3 linked regions of the Homo sapiens genome follow. The protein of the gene in region 1 purifies or fractionates together with the protein of each later gene. This does not show direct contact. Each region holds a gene or a part of one and is shown on either strand. Other genes may lie near its edges.

Region 1 (4,152 bases):
TGTCCGAGCCCTCAGCATTCTGGGCTGTGAAGTTGTAAATGTCGTGGTAATTAACTGTGTGTTAAGTGCCCCTTTGAAAGCAGTAGCTGAGATGGCCAGAATCTTGGAGTATAATCAGGCCTCAGACCCAGGCCTTCTTTGTTCTCACCATCATCTCTCCAAAGAACCTTTCATCTAATCTCAAGGATGTGATTATTATTTCTATGCTGACAACTGCCAAATTGTAACCCCTAGTTTTGTGCTCCAGATCCATACATCCCACTATCTACAGGTCTCTCGAACTTAGCAAGTACAGACCAGAACCTCTGATCTTCCCCTCCATTCCCTGACAACTGCTCCTTTCCCAGTCTCACCCAACACAGCAAGAGACACCCAGAAACCTGATTTATTAATACACCTTTCCAATTCAGTCTCCAAAAAGCAGCCAGGGTACCTTTCAAAAACACCAATCTGCCTGCCTTGTGCACCTGCTCCCTTCTAAGGAATCCCGTACTTCAGGCTAAGAAACAAATCTGGATCAGGCCGTAGGTGATGTGGCCCTCCAATCTCATGCCCTTACTTCATGCCACCTTCCCCAGGTAAACCGTCCTTCTTTCAGTTTCCTTGGGCTCAAGGGCCCTCATGTGCTATTCCTTTTGCAGGAAAGCTCCATCTCCAGTTCCTTACCTGGTTGGCCTTCTTCTCACATGAGGCACAGCTTAAAACATAGCACTTCGTCCGAGAGATGTCCTCTGCCTCCCAGTTTAAAGTAGACCTCTGTGTTGGCCAGGCGTGGTGGCTCACGCCTGTAATTCCAGCACTTTGGGAAGCTGAGGTGGGTGGATCACTTGAAGCCAGGAGTTCCAGACTAGCCTGGCCAACATGGTGAAATCCCGTCTCTACTAAAAATACAAAAATTAGTCAGGTGGCCTATAATCCCAGGTACTTGGGTGGGTGAGGCACAAGAATAGCTTGAACCTGGGAGGTGAAGGTTGCAGTGAGCCAAGATTGCGCCACTGCACTCCAGCCTGGGTGACAGAGTAAGACTCTGTCTCATAAATAAATAAATAAATAAATAAATAAATAAATAAATAAATAAATAAAGTAGACCTCTGTGATTCTCTCCCTTTCTTGGGCCTGCTCTCTTGCCTCTTACATCACAAAGTGTCACCATCTGTGGTCACCAGTGTTTCGGGGGTGGTGCTATTATACCTCTCTTCCCTCCTGAGAGGGGTCACAGGAGGGCAGGTTTTGCCCACTGCTGCAGACCCAGTGCTGGGCATGTGGTAGGTAGTCAAGGTCCTGAATGAATGAAACAATGGCCGCAACTCTAGTTCAAGCCCTCAGCTCTCACCTGGACAGTTACTAGAGCCTCCTCACTGGTCTTGCTACCTTCATTCTGTCTTTCTTCATTCCAATCCACCTTCCACAAGTGCTGACAAGAGTTCTAAAAAAACACATTTGATCCTGTCACTCCCTTCATTAAAAGGCCAAAGGTTCCCCCACATCTTCCAGTGTCAGTTCCAAATTGCTTCACGTGACATGAAAAGGCTTTTATAAGACAAGCTGGTTCCAATTTATCTTTCCAGCTTCGAACTCTGACACTCCAAGTCCCACACTGTGATGTGGCCAAGCTGTTACTGGATGTTCTTTCACATGCCTAGTTGTTCCTCCAGCTTTGAAGGCCTTCCTTACCCTCCTCTAATGACTATGTACCCTTTAAGACCCACATCAAACATCACTTTCTAAAAGCATTTCTTGGAACTCCCCCAGTGAACTTAACATTTTAAAAAACTTTAAAATGCATACTAAAGAATTCCTGCGGCAGCTAGCCCTTGGTATTTTGTTCATATCGCTGTGCTGACACGTGCCCAGTACTCTCTGTCCATTCTTACTAAACTGTGAGCTCCCGGAAGGGCAAGAGCTCATCTGGCAACCATGCATGGTGGGTCCTGTAACCAATGAGTTTCTGGAATTAATTTCTGGTTCCAACTCTATCATCAACTTGCTACCTGATCTGGACAATTCACTTATGTGCTCTTTGACTATTTCCTCATCTGTAAAATGGGAACAACTCCCCACCCTCCCTGTAGAGGCCATAGGTAAAAGTGCCTTGAAACCTGTAAATGTCACACCACAGCAAAGCACGACACGATGACTACTTCACCACCATTCCTGGCACTCTCTAAGGAACAAACCTCCGGTGACCCTTGCTCTTAGACATTCTGACCAAAATCTGATAAAAATGTATCCACATGGCCAGAGGATCTCCTTACTATGAAGGGCAATCGATTTCAGCCTCAAGCTGTAAATGCAAAGCTGGCATTAAACCACACACAGTCTTAGCATTCTAAATAGCAATTTCTCAAATAAAATGTAAAGTGAGTATGAGATAACTCATGCTTAAATCATGAAGAATGAGGAGCTGCCTTCCAGCCTGCAACTCCCAGTCACCAGGGCAGGGATAGTTCTGGCCAATGCAGCCTGAGTGCTCCCAGAGCCCTGAGATTCTGGGGACGTGTGGTCTCCAACTCCCTGCCCTCCCCCTGCCACGACACACAAAACTTTCTTGTTCTCTAAGCGGCATTCTGTACCATCCTCGGCCAGGGCTGCCTCCGGGTCTTGTTTACTAACAGCCCTTACATGGCTCCAATCCCTGCCCCCTCCAATCACACTCTCCCCTACCTAAACAATAAAAACCCACAATGATTCCAAATTCACAATTTCTGCTAACAGTGCAGAGGAGGCCAATTTTGTGCGCTGCTCCCCAAACTCAGCACCAAAAAAATAATCATCCAGCTACTTAGAAATCACTTCTGCAGATGATACTAAAAAAACATCTAGGTAAATAAAATATTTTCTGCTTAACTTTTTTTTAATGGAAAATGGGATTAAATACTTTTCCTCTACAATCTGTCAGTCCAGATGGCAAGTTTTGTTTCCAGTCAACTCAGAGGAAACTAGAAGAGATGGCATGGTTCATAAGATCTTATCAAATCCACTGGCAATGTCAAACAGGAGCACCCTGGGTGGATACTGATTTGCATGAATAGCAAGTACCATAACTGCAAAAGAATCCAAATTTTAACTGCCATTTGTCAATTTGAATTTTCTTCCCCAAACAAAATTATTTCTTAAAAACCATACTCTATAATGTGTTTTTGTTCCAAGTTAATGATGTTAAAACCATGCAACAATGCAAAAGGGAGGGGGTCCCACATAGCCTGACCCTTGCGCCTCAGGGGCAAGGTCCCAAGTAGAGATTGGAACCCAGGGCTTCTAACTCAGCAAGCCTACCTTATCTTTTCCACTTGGTAGAAAAGTCATACTGAAACAGACGAGGAAGAATATTAAATATGAAATAGCAATACTTGAGGCTGAAAGATGCTCCAACAGCTTTAAAAAATATAATCTACTTGGCAATTTCTATATGCCACATTTAACAGTCCTGACATGTTCCTGAACAGACAGCTCAGATATCTCAGGCTCTTTCCAGAATGAAATTGAAGATACTAGAAACCCCAGTACATACTACAACACTGGCAAAAGCTATGTCATGTGACCAAACTTTAAGCGCCAGGATTTCCAACTATGTCAAAGATGAGTTTACAGTAACTATTTTCAAGAGCAAGTGAAGTACTCCTTAGCCAAATGACTGTCAAACATACATACAAAAGCTTTGGCTACAATTTAAGCAGCCTAAGGAAATGTCATCAAGTTCTTTGATCTGCATGAAATGTTCTGGTGATGTGAACCAACTTTGGAATTCCACATTTTCTTACTTAAATTATAAATACCGAGTTACAGTACTGTCCCTATCTCCATTATAGAAGAGTTTTAAAACACCTGTTATAGACACCTGAGCATGCTCCATAAAAATGCACAAAACAGTCACCCCAAGGAAGAACAGGTAAGGTCAACAAATTAATCCACCACATTTAAACTTGGGCATACTAGGTAGGAGGGCTGGGCGAATAAAAAATGGGCTTAGCTTGAAGTGCAAAATAAGGCCGACTACCCTCGGTAAGAATGTATCAACTCTTAAAGGGATTCTTAACAGCTAAGACAGGGTGCTACTTACTTCCTCATTAAAAAGTTTGCTAGTTTCTTTTTTGATTGGGTCTATAAGCTGGACTTGGCCTGCGGAAAAGCCCACTAGGAGAGAGACACTTT
Region 2 (3,826 bases), on another chromosome or scaffold:
ACCTCAGCAAAACAGTACGTCACATGCCTACCTCATAGGATAGATAGGACGCATCAGCACAGCACCTGGCACAGGGCAAGTGCTGGGGAGAGTCAGCTCTGGAGACCACAGACCTCACTGCTATTAGACTCTCTCATCTCAGAACTCCTGCTGCTTGGAGTCCGAACGCATGTTCACTCTGCCTTGAAGCAACAGCTACTCTCTAAGCTTCGTCTCCGTCCAACTCTTCGTGTCAGGGACTTTTCCCTGACTTCTTATATATCCCCTCTGCCCATCAGCAGCTGAGAGATGCCATTTACACAGACAGAAGTATGACTAATGCATGGCCATCTTCAACTGACTGGCTGACTTCAGCGGCGGGCACCCATGCCCATCCTGACCCCAGTGCCCACACCCCCAGAGGACCCAGGCACAGAACCCTCATCCCATCACCTTCTCGCCCATGAGCCCTGGGGGCCCAGGGTCTCCAGTCGGTCCAGTGCGTCCCTTTGGCCCCTCAGGACCATCCTCTCCCCTGGAACCAGGGACTCCAACTTCGCCCTGTGTGAGAGGGAAGGACAGGTGAGTGCTGGGGACTGGAGGTGGGCTCTGGGCCCAGAGGAGAAATGGGCAACAGTGAGGCTGAGGAGGGCTAGAGGGGTCCCAGGAGCCACTGCAGGACAGGAAGCCCACAGGGTAGGGATAGTGTAGTGATGGGAGGGCAGGCATGACACAGACCATGGGGCTATCATCCTGTAGGGGTCAGGCTCCCAAGGGAACACAGCACTGGAACTGTGGAGTCTGGAGACTCAGGAGAATAAACCGGTGCTTGGCGTCTCCAGAGTGGAGGCTCAGTAGAACACGGAATTGGGGCCAGTGTGGGGTCTCTACTCACCCTGTCACCTTTCACGCCTATGTCACCTTTGAACCCAGGAAAGCCATCCTCACCCTGAGAAAGATAGAGGTGAGAGGGCACCACAGATGACAGAGGGCTGGGGTTCTAATGGGAATTCTGAGAACATAGGTGGAAGCAGGGGCTCGGGAGCTGGACGGCAGTGCGGGGCAGGCTGGAGGGAAGGCAGTGAAGAGAGGAGATGGCAGGACTGAGGTGCTGGGAAGCTGGGGGCATGGTGCTCACCTTCTCACCCTTATGACCCTTCAGACCCCGAATTCCGTCCACACCCTAGAATTAGAGAGGGGATAGAAGTAGACTGATCAGGGGATGGAGGTGGGTTGGAAGGACCAAGCTCCTAAGACCCCATATAGCTCCCCTGACCACAGCCCTTTGTCTCCCAGCCTGGTGGTCAGTTACCTTGACCCCTCGAGGTCCTGGGTATCCTAGAGGTCCCTGAGGTCCAGAGGGACCCTGGAAGATAAAAGAGAGGCATTTATAAAGGGGCCTCAGAGTGTCACTGTGGGGGCCTCCAGGGGTGGAAGAAATGGAAGTAACAACATTGCTGTCTGGGTAGGGTTACGGGGCACAGGAATTGAGAATGTGGCAGAGCCATATGAATAATGAGACAAGGGAATCCCAAGGACTTTGAGGCTCTAGAGTCTGAGTGGAGACTCCCTCAGGGGATAAAGACATGGAAGATCTCACCTGGTTTCCTTTGGTTCCAGGGGGACCTTCCTTCCCTGGGTGACCCTGGGAGTAAGGGATAGAAAATGTGACCAGTGGCCCCTGTCACCCTCTCTGCACCCCTCCCTACACTTCTTCCAACCCAAATTTCCTGTGACCTAGTGAAGCCAACTGTCCATGGACAAGCACCACCAGTGACCTTTCAGTGCAAGGGTCACTAAAGGAGCTCTGAGGTCATGCACTGGGGTGGAAGGCCAAGGGGAACTGGATTCGGAAGTGGGGTCCCACTCACCGGGGGTCCGTCTGAGCCAGGCATGCCGGGGAGCCCTGGCTTCCCTTGAGGACCCTGCAGGAAGACAAAGAGGCTCAGGGTCACTAGAGGGGTCATGTCTGGACACAGACAAAATCCCAGCAGACATTTAGGGTTCTCCCTACATCCCCACTCTAAACCCCCTGTCCTCCAAATCACTTAGTCACTTACCTTCTCTCCATGAGGGCCGATGGCACCCTGGGGCCCGGGAAGACCCTACATACAGGGAAAGAGAAGTCACAGGGGCCTCCCAGGGTCTCTTCTATCCAGCCTCCCGGATTCAAAGCATGAGCAACAAGGGCCTGAAACCCTTAATTTCCTGTATCCTTCCAGGGTCTCACCCATTGTGGAAGCCCAAGGGAAGTCATGAAAATTGGGGAACGGAGTAGGGGCACCGCTCACCTGGGTCCCAGGGGTGCCCTGTTGTCCAGGAGGTCCTGGCTCTCCCTGGGGTCCCTAGAAACAGGTGACCAGGCACAGGTCAGAAGGAGATGGAGATAGAACACATTTAGAGCATGGAGCTGAGTCCCAGCAGCGATAGCCAAGAAGGCAAGAGCAGGAAGCAGGCAGGGGTCAAAATGGCGGCCAACAGGATGCTGGCAGGGACCTCGGGGGATAAGAATGGGGGTGGGATCTCCTATCCATCACTCACCAAGCTCCCTTTGGGGCCCTGGGGACCATCCATGCCTCGGACGCCCTGAAACACAAGATGGGTGTGAGCAGCCTGAAGGTGGCCCGGAGGGACCTGTGGTTTTCAGAGGCCCGGCCATTCCCGAGGGTGTGACGGTCAGACCTCCAATCCATCCCAAACCCAAGCAAACACAGCTGGCCCAGGCCTGCAGTGTGTGGGACTGTGGATCTGTGGGCTTGTGGGCTTTGGTTTTGTTTTTCTTGAAGATTTATTTCCTATGCCCAGAGCCCTCAGGGCACCACGCCACATGGCCCTCCCTGTGCACGGGGAGCGAATGCTGAGGCAGGGCAGTGTGGGGCCAGAGCAGGGGGAGCTCACAGGGAATGGGAAGCATGCCGAGAGAGGAGAGGGAGCAGGAAGGCAGCTAGAAAGGTGGAGAGTTGGAGAGGTCAAGGGGTCACCTCAGGGTCAGAAGTCAGGGAGTCACTTACAGGGGGTCCAGGAATACCAGGTGGGCCTTTGGGGCCAAGGAGACCTCGAGGTCCCTGCATTCACGGTGAGGGGAGGAGACGGCATGAATGGATAAAACTGTGTCCCTTTAGTGCTCATGTCCCCCTCCTGGCTTCCCCAGAGCCCCCTCCCCCAGCACCAGCCCTTGGACACTCACCGACTCTCCAGGCAGCCCTCGAGGCCCAATCTCCCCGTCATCTCCCTGGAGGAGGAGGACACGGTAAAGCTGCTGTGCCTTCTAGACCTCCCCTGCACCCAGCCCCTACATTTGCCACTACACTTACCCTCTCTCCATCCTCACCAGGGGGACCAGGAAGGCCCTGGGCACCAGTATCACCCTGCAAAATGGGGGAACTCATAAGAGGGGCTTCAGAGCCCCCAACACAGGCAGACACCGAACCTCTGCACTTAGCCCATCCATTACTTTCACTGAGCTCCTGCCAAGCCTCCAGCCTCCCTTCCCTACCTATCCTCACTCCCATAGAAGATCTATCCCCAATTACAACACACACCCACTAATGTACTCACCCTATGGCCCTTCTCTCCAGGGAGCCCTGGGAGTCCATCAAAACCTCGGTCACCCTAGGAGGAGGAAGGATAGCCAGAGTGAGGACACGACCCTGTCCAAGCCCACCCCTCCCTACTGCACCCTGAGCTGGGGGGGTGCTGATCCTGGGGAAGCCTGGAGAACTAGGTCATCCCCAAGAAACAACTGAGCCCAGCGTGGGCTGAAGGCTACAGGCTTCAGGGAGGGGCCCAAGCCTGTTACCTTCACTCCAGGATCTCCAGGCATCCCTCGGGCTCCATCAGCACCTGC
Region 3 (3,826 bases), on another chromosome or scaffold:
GAGGCTGAGGCGGGCAGATCACCTGAAGTCAGGAGTTTGAGACCAGCCTGGCCAATATGGTGAAACCCTGTCTTTTAAAAATACAAAAATAAGCTGGGCATGATGGCATGTGCCTGAAATCCGAGCTACTCAGGAGGGTGAGGCAGGAGAATCGCTTGAACCCGGGAGGCAGAGGTTACAGTGAGCCGAGATCATACCACTGCACTCCAGCCTGGGCAACAGAGCAGGGCTCTGTCTCCAAAAAAAAAAAAAGAATCATTTATGCTGAGAAACAGAATGAGAACCAAGTCTTCTACCACCTTTTTGTGTAGGATATATAATTCAAGAATGGGCTAGAAAGTGAATTACAGGTAATTTAAAAATGAACCTCCCATGATGGTCAGGATTCCAAATGTAGTTAATACATTCCTGAGTTCTCGGAAGAAACATAATGGGTGAATCCATCATGTTGTTAAGTGAAAAACAGCTCTGCTAAGTCTGCTAAAATTCAAGATTTTTTTCCTGACTTAGAATAAACGCAAGGAAAATAATGACATATTTAGAAGACAAGCAGGTACTAGTATTTCTCACCTTTTTCCAAATGGCAAATCTGTTACAATAATATCCACAGAGCCAGTTCTCAATGGCAGATTGCAGATATCCCACTGAACAGCATCTATGGGCAAGCCCCAGGAGGGTTTGCTGTGGGGACAAAGGAAAGGTGCTTCAACATACTGTGAAGCATAAAGTTATTACAACAATTTTTGTTTCTGAAGAGAGACTGCTACAGCAAAACATAAACTGCTAAGGATATCAGTGATAATATCAACCTATTCAAAATTTAAGAAATGGCACAAAGGTAAAAAATAGGTCAGGCTGGGCATGGTAGCTTGTGCCTATAATCAGCACTTTCAGGGGCTGAGGTGGGAGGATCACTGGACTCCAGGAATTTGAGACCAGCTGAGCAACACTGTGAGACCTTGTCTCTAAAATACTTTTTTAAGAAGTTAGCAGGGCATGATGGCACACACCTATAGTCCCAGCTACTCAGGAGGCTGAGGTGGGAGGATCACTTGAGTCCAGGAGTTGAAAGATGCAGTGAGCTAGGATTGTGCCGCTTTACTCCAGCCTGGGTGACAGAGCAAGACCCCCGTCTCAGAAAAAAGGGAAACAAACTGAAAACATGATTGTAATGCAGAGAACTGCAAAAGACAACTTTAAAAACAATGCTGAAGCAGTAAATTACATAACCGATGATACAAAAATTTAAGTTGCTGATAAAACATACACTGGAGAAAAACAATACTAAAGAATAGATAATGGGGTGATGTATCTGAAGAATAAAGTTTGTAAAACTAGTAATAACAGGAGGCCTAAAAGAAAAACAGATAGTAAAATTGGCAAATATATAGGTAATTGTTTCAAGATGAAAAACCAAAAGGAAAATATGTGCCATGCTATATAAAACAAGACTAAGAAAAAAGTTAAGATAAAAAATATAGATGACAGAAGACAGAATGAATAATAATAAATACAAAGGATTTAAATCCTCCTCATTAAGGCAAAGCAACTGGTTTAAGAAACAAAATAATGCACAGGCTAAGAACTGAAGATAAGTCAAAGGTTATCAGCAGAAATTAAGGATTTAATTGACATTTAATGAAGAATTTAAGAAAAAAATGCAATAAAAGCAATCATTACATAATTTTTAAAAGTACACATAAAATATGTATTATAACCGCATACCAATAACTGCACAAAACAAAAGGCAAAAAATATTAAAAACCAAAGTAAAATGGATAGAAATGTACAGGTTGAGGCCGGGCACAGTGGCTCATGCCTGTAATCCCAGCACTTTGGGAGGCCAAGGTGGGCAGATCATGAGGTCAGGAGATTGAGACCATCCTGGCTAACATGGTGAAAACCCGTCTCTACTAAAAATACAAAAAAAAAATAAGCCGGGCATGGTGGCGGGTGCCTGTAGTCCCAGCTACTTGGGAGGCTGAGGCAGGAGAATGGCGTGAACCCGGGAGGCGGAGCTTGCAGTGAGCCGAGATCAAGCCACTGCACTCCAGCCTGGGCGACAGAGTGAGACTCCGTCTCAAAAAAAAAAAAAAAAAAAAAAAAAAAAAAAAAAAAAAAAAGTACGGGTTGAACAGACAGTGTAGGTACAAACAAGATAAAATATTCAGAAGCTAGAAAGGTACGTTTGTTTAAATGTTTATCAGTTTTAATTAAAAAAAAAAAAGACTGGCCATATACTAGGCTCATTAAAAAAAACCCTCAATAAATATGAAACAACCATTCAAAATTAATTCATCACAATAAATCAGTATTTAAGAAAATTGAAGCCTTCCAACTACTTGTCTTAATACACGTAAAAGGATTTAATGTTGATACATAGACCAGCAGCATCAGCATTGTCCTGGAGTTTCCTGGAAAATGCAGACTCTTAGGTCCCATCCCAAACTACTAAATCAGATCTGTGTTAACAGTACTCCTAGGTGATTCACATGTACATTAATGTTTGAGAAGCACTGTCCTAAAAAATTAGATCAGAGAGACAATGAAATATATAACCAATGACTTAGTAATAAAATAGAGGCGAGGCTATATAAACTGCAGTATTTCTATACGATGGAATTTATGTAGTGACTTTAAAGACTATGGTCCAGGTGTGGTGACTCGTCTCTAATCCCAGCAATTTGGAAGGCTGAAGCGGCAGAATCTCTTGAGGCCAGGAGTTTGACACCAGCCTGGACAAAACAGCAAGACCCCCATCTCTACGAAGATTTTAAAAAATTAGCTGGGCATGGTGGCACATGCCTGTATTCCTAGCTACTAGGGAGGCCAAGGCAGGAGGATTGCTTGAGCTCAGTAGGTTGAGGCTACAGTGAGCCATGATCATGTCACTGCACTCCAGCCTGGGTGACAAAATGAGACCCTGTACCCAAAGCAAAAAAGAAGCCTATGTAAAAATATACTGTTTAAAATTTTGTGAAATTAAAATGAGTCTATAAAATATTCTTCCAATATGTAGGGGAAAAGACATATGAATAAGACAAATGAAAAATTGCATATGGTGGGGAAATTATCGCTAAAATAATATTTTAAAAATATAACTTATTTTCAATAAACTTTAAAAATGTAAATGGAGTCTCATAGTATATTCATTTTGGTTACAATGACGTCACAATGCACTGGGAGTTTTAATTCATAAAGTCAATATAAAAAGTGATTCTCTAACTCTAAAAGATGCTAAGAAATCTTTTAAATTTTTACCCTTCTTTAATTTGGCTCTTGGTCAATAAAGATGCAATGTTATTTGCTGCTCTATTCACAGCCAGTGGATTATTATCACCAGCAATATGGAAACAGTCAGACCATTCAGTGGCCCCCTAAAAGATAAGAGTGTATGTTAAAACAAAAGTAGCAAACTGTAAAATATGATTAAATTGTCAACAAACAAAGAAAATCCAGTGCTTTTCTAGAGTGGCAAAACATTGCATGTTGTCAACTGTGCTATTTCCCTGGCTGAAAATGCCCTCTTATTCTTTCTCTGCTTGCTGAACCTCTACCCATCTCTTAAGACCCAGCTCAAACCTCATGCCCTTTCAACATCAACCTTAACTCTCCAAGCAGTCTTATGTGCCCCTCCCAAAAACACTTTGTATGTACGTACCTCTGCCACTGCACTTGTCCCACGGTTAATTATTTCTTCCCCTTTATGCCTCTCAACTAACCTGGGAGCTCTCTGAGGTCAGGTCTAGTATTTTATTCAGTTCCTCATCCAGCAGTGTCTGGCACACTAAATTCTAAGTTAATGCGGTTTGAAAATATTTGAGAT

What was found.
Region 2: the proteins of WDR20 (region 1) and COL11A2 purify together in Homo sapiens (affinity purification with mass spectrometry; one large-scale study listed by BioGRID and IntAct). This does not show direct contact.
Region 3: the proteins of WDR20 (region 1) and THUMPD3 purify together in Homo sapiens (co-immunoprecipitation; one large-scale study listed by IntAct). This does not show direct contact.

The regions. Positions count from the first base shown.
Region 1 is NC_000014.9:102,195,029-102,199,180, reverse strand, and holds part of WDR20 (WD repeat-containing protein 20), read right to left. Parts: coding exon 4,061-4,152; intron 4,055-4,060; exon of another isoform or gene 3,308-4,054; coding exon of another isoform or gene 3,277-3,307; intron 1,427-3,276; coding exon of another isoform or gene 1,334-1,426; intron 1-1,333. UniProt on the Homo sapiens protein: Regulator of deubiquitinating complexes. Activates deubiquitinating activity of complexes containing USP12. Anchors at the base of the ubiquitin-contacting loop of USP12 and remotely modulates the catalytic center of the enzyme.
Region 2 is NC_000006.12:33,175,142-33,178,967, forward strand, and holds part of COL11A2 (collagen alpha-2(XI) chain isoform 1 preproprotein), read right to left. Parts: coding exon 3,779-3,826; intron 3,592-3,778; coding exon 3,538-3,591; intron 3,348-3,537; coding exon 3,294-3,347; intron 3,212-3,293; coding exon 3,167-3,211; intron 3,045-3,166; coding exon 2,991-3,044; intron 2,566-2,990; coding exon 2,521-2,565; intron 2,452-2,520; exon of another isoform or gene 2,325-2,451; coding exon 2,271-2,324; intron 2,085-2,270; coding exon 2,040-2,084; intron 1,905-2,039; coding exon 1,851-1,904; intron 1,625-1,850; coding exon 1,580-1,624; intron 1,346-1,579; coding exon 1,292-1,345; intron 1,163-1,291; coding exon 1,118-1,162; intron 929-1,117; coding exon 875-928; intron 541-874; coding exon 433-540; intron 1-432.
Region 3 is NC_000003.12:9,380,054-9,383,879, reverse strand, and holds part of THUMPD3 (tRNA (guanine(6)-N(2))-methyltransferase THUMP3), read right to left. Parts: intron 3,378-3,826; coding exon 3,262-3,377; intron 682-3,261; coding exon 571-681; intron 1-570. UniProt on the Homo sapiens protein: Catalytic subunit of the THUMPD3-TRM112 methyltransferase complex, that specifically mediates the S-adenosyl-L-methionine-dependent N(2)-methylation of guanosine nucleotide at position 6 (m2G6) in tRNAs.